Linked DNA regions of Homo sapiens. The protein of the gene in region 2 purifies or fractionates together with the protein of the main gene of each other region. This does not show direct contact. Each region holds a gene or a part of one and is shown on either strand. Other genes may lie near its edges. The genes, in order: DAZAP1 and RAD52.

Region 1 (3,814 bases), on a different chromosome or scaffold from region 2:
TAGTTCACACGGGAACCCTCCAAACCCTCCCGCGAGCTGCGGAGGACATAAAGGCCAATCCGCGCTGGTTTAAAGAGTCAGCTGAAAGCCAGAGCAGAACACTCCACAAGCCCGCTAAGTCCAAAGACACTGGGCTCTGCTGAGACACTTTCTCACTTTTCTAGAGAGACCCAAGGAGACAGGGATTGAGCATTTCTGCAGAGCTACATTTCAGCTAAACGGACCCACGACACAGTGCGTGCCTTGCCTCAGCTATTCCGAATTACAACCACTGCCACGTGGAAAAGTGCTCCAGTGTGAAGGCAGGGACTTTAGGACGGCAGGGGAAAGGCAGCAGCGACGACGAAATGAGCAGAGAGGAAGCTGGATTTCAGGCTGTACATCTCCAGCAGGTGACAATGATGGCTACGGAAACCTCCAGCAGCTCAAGAGCTGTGTGAAACACTGGCCCAAACCACACAGCCCCTTCTGCCGGCCTCCCACTGGCAAGGGCGCCTGCTCCTGGGCACCACTTCCCGGGGCCTCGGCGCTCACTGGGTGGCCAGAGCCAGGAGTCTCTGGTCCAGCTCCCGGGCTGCCCTTAGGGCTGGGGCTGCTCTCCTCCTGCCCCCACCCACCAACCATCCTTTTTTTTTTTTTTCCCTATCCAAGGCTATCACATTTTAAGTTGTTCCAACTGCTTTGAATAAAAGACTATAAACCTTTGAGGGTGAGTGCTCGCCGCCGTGACGGTCGGGATGGTTTCATGAGTGTGCGCGTGGGGTGAGTGCTCGCCGCCGTGACGTTCGGGGTGGTTTCATGAGTGTGCGCGTGGGGTGAGTGCTCGCCGCCGTGACGTTCGGGGTGGTTTCATGAGTGTGCGCGTGGGGTGAGTGCTCGCCGCCGTGACGTTCGGGGTGGTTTCATGAGTGTGCGCGTGGGGTGAGTGCTCGCCGCCGTGACGTTCGGGGTGGTTTCATGAGTGTGCGCGTGGGGTGAGTGCTCGCCGCCGTGACGTTCGGGATGGTTTCATGAGTGTGCGCGTGGGGTGAGTGCTCGCTGCCGTGACTGTAGGGATGGTTTCATGAGTGTGCGCGTGGGGTGAGTGCTCGCCGCCGTGACTGTAGGGATGGTTTCATGAGTGTGCGCGTGGGGTGAGTGCTCGCCGCCGTGACTGTAGGGATGGTTTCATGAGTGTGCGCGTGGGGTGAGTGCTCGCTGCCGTTGACGATCGGGATGGTTTCATGAGTGTGTGCGTGGGGTGAGTGCTCGCTGCCGTGACGGTCGGGATGGTTTCACGAGTGTGTGCGTGGGGTGAGTGCTCGCTGCCGTGACGGTTGGGATGGTTTCATGAGTGTGTGCGTGGGGTGAGTGCTCGCTGCCGTGACGGTCGGGATGGTTTCATGAGTGTTTGTATGGGTCAGAATCATCAAGTGGTGCAGTTTACTACGTGCCCATTATATCTTAAGAAAAGCTAGAGAGACATTAATAACCAGATGGAATATGAACCTTGGATTCCAGTCTGAAAAAAACCAGCTATGAGAGACACTTGTGAAACAATTCTGGAGCTGGGAACACGGCCTGGACACAGATGACACGGGATTCCCTGCAGCCGCTTTCCAGCGTGCTGACGGTGGGTGCATGCGAGGGGTGGCCGTCATTTTAGGAGACGCACCCTCCGGTCCTTAGGAATGGTGTATGTGGACAGAGATGGATGTAAATACATATAGACCCCACCCTGCTGCCCACACTGTGGAGAGGCTGGCACCCGGTGCCTCAGCAGGCCTCCAGGTCTGCACTGTCCAGCACGTTCTATGGGGCTAAGAGCTTTCCCATCTGCACCGCCCCACCAGGCTCCTGGTGCCGGTGTGAGAACTGCAGGGCTGGAGGAAGGTGAGGTGTGGGTGGTGGTGAGACCCAAATGCCAAGGAGACCCCATGCCAGGACAGTGCCCTGTCGGCCAGGCAAGCACCAGGGCGCAGGTCAGAGAACCCAAGTTGCCACGTCAGGGGATCTCAAGTGGAGCAGTAAAGTGGCCAGCACGAGCTGACACAGCCCGGCCCAGCCCCGGCAGTGGAAGGATGGCCCACCTCTGAGGAGGGCCAGGCAGTGGGAGGGGGCAGGCCCGGCACAGAGGGCACACAGGGCACAGAGGGAAGCTGACTGGCTCCTGATAATCAGTGGCATGAGCTGTCATTTTTTTTTTCCCTAAGATAGATTAGTAAGAATTTTCTTGGCTGTAAAACACTCACGGCACTGATAAATCTGGGTGATCCTCAGCTGCTCGAGTGCCAACCCAGAAGACCTGCGTCGCCCTCAATCTTAACGAGCGACAACAGCAGATTGAAGGCACGCATTTCCTTTCCACGTGGAGTGGAGAACACACAAGGAGGCCGCCCGGCCCAGCCCCTTACCCATCCTTCCTTCGGCCGTGTTCTCTCCGGCTGCATCCCCCGGGGTGTGCATGGCTTGGGGTCGATCTGCAGGAAATTTCAAATCAGCTGGTTGTGAATAAGAGGCTGTTTCTCTAGGAAAGAGGGTGTCAGCACAACAGCAGCCACGGCACAGCAGCCCGGCCCGCCCCGCCCCGCCGGCTCCATTCACCCTGTATCCTCCTGCAATATCCAGCCTCAGCACCAAGGCTTAATCCTTCCCAATCGACCCCACGTTCAAACATACTCTAACGCAAACATCGGTCAGAGTCCAGGAAAAAATGAAGCAGAGGAAGGACAGGGGAGACAGAGAGCGGGTGTGAGCTCCCGGAAGGGCACTTACGTTTCGGCCATCTAGCGTGTGCGGTCTGCTGGCCAGCACCGTCCCCACACAGTTTGGGTCTTTAAATTTGACAAACCCAAAGCCTCGAGACTGGTTGGTGGTTTTATCTTTCATGATAACACAATCTACGACTTCTCCATATTGGGAAAAGTAGCTGCGCAGAGTCTCTGCTCAGAAATCGGGAAGAAAACACAAACACACAGGGCCAGAGCATTAGGCACGTGCCTGGCAGTGCTGCCGGCACGCACACTCCTCCAGTCCACCAGCCACGCACCGAGCGATGCTGCACTGGGGGTGGGGGGTGTACGGGAAGCGCTGGGGAATTCTGCCCAACACACACTTGAGGTCCTCACGTAAATCAGGGGCTGCCAGTGAGCACAGCAGTGGCCAGCGGTTACAACCTGACTTTGTAGGCGTCCAGGAAGGCAACGTTTAAGGCAAGGCAAACAAGACAACTCTGAATGCTGGCAGTGGCCAAGGAGCGCCGACTTTGCTACACACTCTTTCCTCCTATTCTGAACTCAGTAACAGCCTGGCCAGCCCCCAGCCCTCTGCACTTCCAGACAACAGCTGTCTGCCTCCACAAGCCACCTCAGCCCGGAGCTAGGAACCTGCAGCCTGAGGTCTTCCCTGTAACTTGGGATGGAAATACCAAATTAACAGTCTCAGAGCAAATACACACTTACTCTGTCCCCTGCCCAGAAATCAGAACAACGTCAAAAGGACTTTAAAATATCCAAGACAGTAGCAAGAGGCGGGCAGACACAACTTGAAGGCCGAGGTCCTAGAGCCCATCTGCAGTACCCACCTGACACCCCTTCCCCACCTACCTTGGGTCGTGCTCCAGTCAAGACCGCCCACGAAGAGCTTCCTGCGATTCAATGAGAAAACATTCAGGATCAAGACAGCGCTCGCCTTAGAAATGCCCCCATCCAAGCCAAGCTGAGGTCTTAATTCAAACCACAGAAGCAGCTGACGCAAACGTCCTTGTGCACGTGACGGCATACAAAGCTCACAGCAATGGCGAGTCAGCCTCGCCCATGCTGTCTGCAGACATGAA
Region 2 (3,814 bases):
AAGCTTATTTAGTGATCTCAGGTAGTCTTTGTCCAGAATACAGTTTCCAAGTGCATTCCCAAAACTCCTAAGGGCAAGAGAAAAAAAGGTGAAACAGGGTTAAGAATTGTTACACATGAATATCAGAGAATAGAATTACAACTTTTGTACAGGTTGCTTCTCAGGAGCAGCAGAGGAAGTGGACCCTAACATGCATTCCCCATTGATGTCTGGTAAGCATCTAGCATGTTCCTGCACTGTGTTAGTTTCTGAGAATACTGCAGTGAGGACAAGACACAAGTCCCTGCCCTCACAGAGAAGATGAGTATGAAAAGATTACGGCGCCATTCACAAAACCCACCAGCCACCTCCTGACATGGAGAACAAACTGCAGAGAGTTTTTCTTTTTTTTCCCCCCAAAGGCTGCTCCAATTTCCCAGCAGGAGTAGGCAACACACACTTGGGGACCGGGGGCTCAAGGGCACAACCTCCCATGACCAGAGTTCTTAACTTGGGATCTACGGACTCCCCCACAGAACTCATAGGTTTTTCTGGTTCAATTCACTTCAATTCTCAAAGACACGGATATGGTTTGGATGTTTATCCCCTCCAAATTTCATGTTGAAACGTGACCTCCAATGCCGGGGGGTGCGGCCTGGTGGGAGGTACTGGATCCTGGGGCTGGATTCCTCATAAACAGCTTAGTGCCATCCCCTTGGTGTTGAGTGAGTTCTCACTCAGCTCATGAGAGATCTGGTGGTTTTGAGTGTGGGGGCTGGGCATGATGGCTCATGCCTGTGATCCCGGCACTTTGGGAGGCACAAGGCAGGAGGATGACTTGAGCCCAGGAGTTTGAGACCAGCCTAGGCAACAAAGGGAGACCCTGTCTCTCCAAAAAAAAAAAAATTTTTTTTTAATTAACTGGGGGTGGTGTTATGTGCCTGTGATCCCAGCTACTCGGGAGGCTGAGGCGGGAAGATCACTTCAGCCCAGGAGTTCAAGGCTGCACTGAGCGATGACGGCACCACTGCACCCCAGCCTGTGCAACAGAGCAAGACCCTGTCTCAAAAAATGAAAAACAACAATAAAATAAATAAATAAGCCTGGGACTCCTTCCTTCTCTCTCTTGCTCCCTCTCTCTCCACGTTCCCTCTTCACCTTCTGCCATGATTAGAAGCTTCCTGAGGCCTCAGCAGAAGTGGATGCTGGCACCAGGCTTCCAGTACAGTCCACAGAATCATAAGCCAATCAAACCTCCTTTATTTATAAATTACCCAGCCTCTGGTATTCCTGTATAGCAACATAAATGGACTAACACGGACATCTGCGTGACTGTGTAACTACGTTAACTATGCTACCTGTGCGTAGCGGAGGACTGCTGAGGAGCACGGAGAGGAGGGTGCTGTCTGTGCACTCGCAGTAGGAGTGGGAAGGCCTCCGGCACACATGACTGAGTGCACGGAGAAGAGAGAGTACAGGATTCTACCACTTACTCCCAGCAAGGGAAGCCTGAAACAGAAACATTGAAAAAATACTAACGAAAGTGGGAAAACGGCAGACAGGAACCAGGGCAGGGGTGAGAATTACCTTCCACGCTGCTTGGATTTTTGAACCATGTGGATGTGTTACCTCTTCCAAAAAAAATCGAAATCTGCTCTGAAGCAAGAGCTGAAATGACGCAGGTTAGACTCCCAGCCCCGCGCTCACCTGAGGGCTCGCTTCAGCCCGTCTGTCACCGCCTCCTTCCTTGCCTTCTCCAAAGATAAAGCCTTGGACTTGAGGCCCTCACTAACACCATAACCAACATCTTCATGATATGAACCATCCTGGGGGCAGAAAAGGAGTTTGAACTCAAACACGAGAGCGGCAGGCGTGCCACAACTCCCCTGTTCCTCAAGCAGCAGGGTTCAAAGCCGGACTCTCCCACCTGGCGGCCTTGCTACAGGGGCACGGGCAGAAGGCTGGGTGAGAATCCATCGCGAGTGCTGCTTCCTAGACCTGGGCTGCCTGGACATGTGCCTGCGGTCAAGGTGTCAAGACGATCCTCCCTTCCCAACTTCCCAACACACAAAGGGCACATTAGAAACTCACCCCAAATCCTATCAGTGTGCATCACCCTAAGGTAAAAAAAACCTCTGGGATGGCCGGGCCGGGCGTGGTGGCTCACGCTGTAATCCCAGCCCTTTGGGAGGTCAAGGGAGGTGGATCACTTGAGGTCAGGAGTTCAAGACCAGCCTGGTCAACATGGTGAAACCCTATCTCTACTAAAAATACAAAAATTAGCCGGGTGTGGTGGTGGGCACCTGTAATCCCAGCTACTCAGGAGACTGAGGCAGGAGAATCACTTGAACCTGGGAGGCAGAGGTTGCAGTGAGCCGAGATTGCACCACTGCACTCCAGCCTGGGTGATAGAGTGAGACTACGTCTTGGAAAAAAAAAAACCTCTGGGATATGAAACAAAGGGATGATTTGAACACTGGATCTAATGGTCTGTAAGGACGGGAGAGCAAACCCTTTGTAAATCAGGTGGCGTCCAGCTCCTGCCTCTCACCAAAAGAGAAGGTGGACCTGAGCACATCATTCGCTGATTGAGAATTAAATACAATGTTTGATGACAGCGCTCTGTGATTTTTAAAAAATAACTCAGAAAGCACTCAAATAAATGAGTGACACTATAACACAATTCTTTCCATTCTCAGCTACTCACTCATAGATACAAGATTTTTTAGTACTATTTAGAAAAATAAGTCAGAATAGAATTAATGCTGAATTGTTCATTCAAGAAATAAGTAGGCCGGGTGCGGTGGCTCACGCCTGTAATCCCAGCACTTTTGGAGGCCAAGGCGGGTGGATCACCTGAGGTTGTGAGTTCCAGACCAGCCTGACCAACATGGAGAAACCGCGTCTCTACTGAAAACACACACAAAAAATTAGGCGGGCGGGGTGGCGCATGCCTGTAATCCCAGCTACTTGGGAGGCTGAGGCAGGAGAATCGCTTGAACCCAGGAGGTGGAGGTTGCGGTGAGCTGAGATTGAACCATTGCCCTCCAGCCTGGGCAACAAGAGCAAAACTCCATCTCAAAAAAAAAAAAGAAGTAAGTAATATTCAGTTATGGATATATGGATATATAAACTAACTGAAAAGAAAAAACAGCACCATCCATCTCATTAAGATATACATTTTCCATAAATTTTATATTTTAAATTTTTTATTTTTGTGGCAAGATTTCATATCTTTAATTTTTCTAAGTATCAAAATTTTGCTGTATTTATGTTTTCTCTTCACCATAAACACAATTGTCTGGTCAATTGTGTGTTAACAGTAGCTATAATATAACTAAATCCAAAAGAAATATTTTAATATTTAGAGCCTTAAGTGCACTGAAAATTTACCAAAAATTTTTATTTTTATACACAGGCAAAGGCAGAGAAGCACAGTAAGGCTACCGATAAAACTTTTCTTTTTTTCCACCCAGGAGTTCAGTGGCGCAATCACAGCTCACCACAGCCTCGACTTCCTGGGCTCAGGTGATCCTCCCACCTCAGCCTCTTGAGTAGCTAGGACTACAAGCATACACCACCATGCCCAGCTAATTTTTTGTATTTTTAGTAGAGACGGGCTTTCGCTATGTTGCCCAGGCTGGTCTCAAATCCCTGGGCTCAAGCAGTCCTTCCACCTGGGCCTCCCAAAGTGCTGGGGTTACACGAATGAGCCACCCCGCCTAGCCAAACTTTCAACCATAAATATGTATTAGGATTAAAACCAGTGGGGAAATAGAATAGAAATATGAGTTCAGATAAAGAAAGAACAATGTAAAATTTCTAATGATTAAAA

The links.
Region 1: the proteins of RAD52 (region 2) and DAZAP1 purify together in Homo sapiens (affinity purification with mass spectrometry; one study listed by BioGRID and IntAct). This does not show direct contact.

The regions. Positions count from the first base shown.
Region 1 is NC_000019.10:1,417,311-1,421,124, reverse strand, and holds part of DAZAP1 (DAZ-associated protein 1), read right to left. Parts: intron 3,626-3,814; coding exon 3,585-3,625; intron 2,922-3,584; coding exon 2,755-2,921; intron 2,460-2,754; coding exon 2,394-2,459; intron 1-2,393. UniProt on the Homo sapiens protein: RNA-binding protein, which may be required during spermatogenesis.
Region 2 is NC_000012.12:925,459-929,272, forward strand, and holds part of RAD52 (DNA repair protein RAD52 homolog), read right to left. Parts: intron 1,806-3,814; coding exon 1,687-1,805; intron 1,489-1,686; coding exon of another isoform or gene 1,338-1,488; intron 68-1,337; coding exon 1-67. UniProt on the Homo sapiens protein: Involved in double-stranded break repair. Plays a central role in genetic recombination and DNA repair by promoting the annealing of complementary single-stranded DNA and by stimulation of the RAD51 recombinase.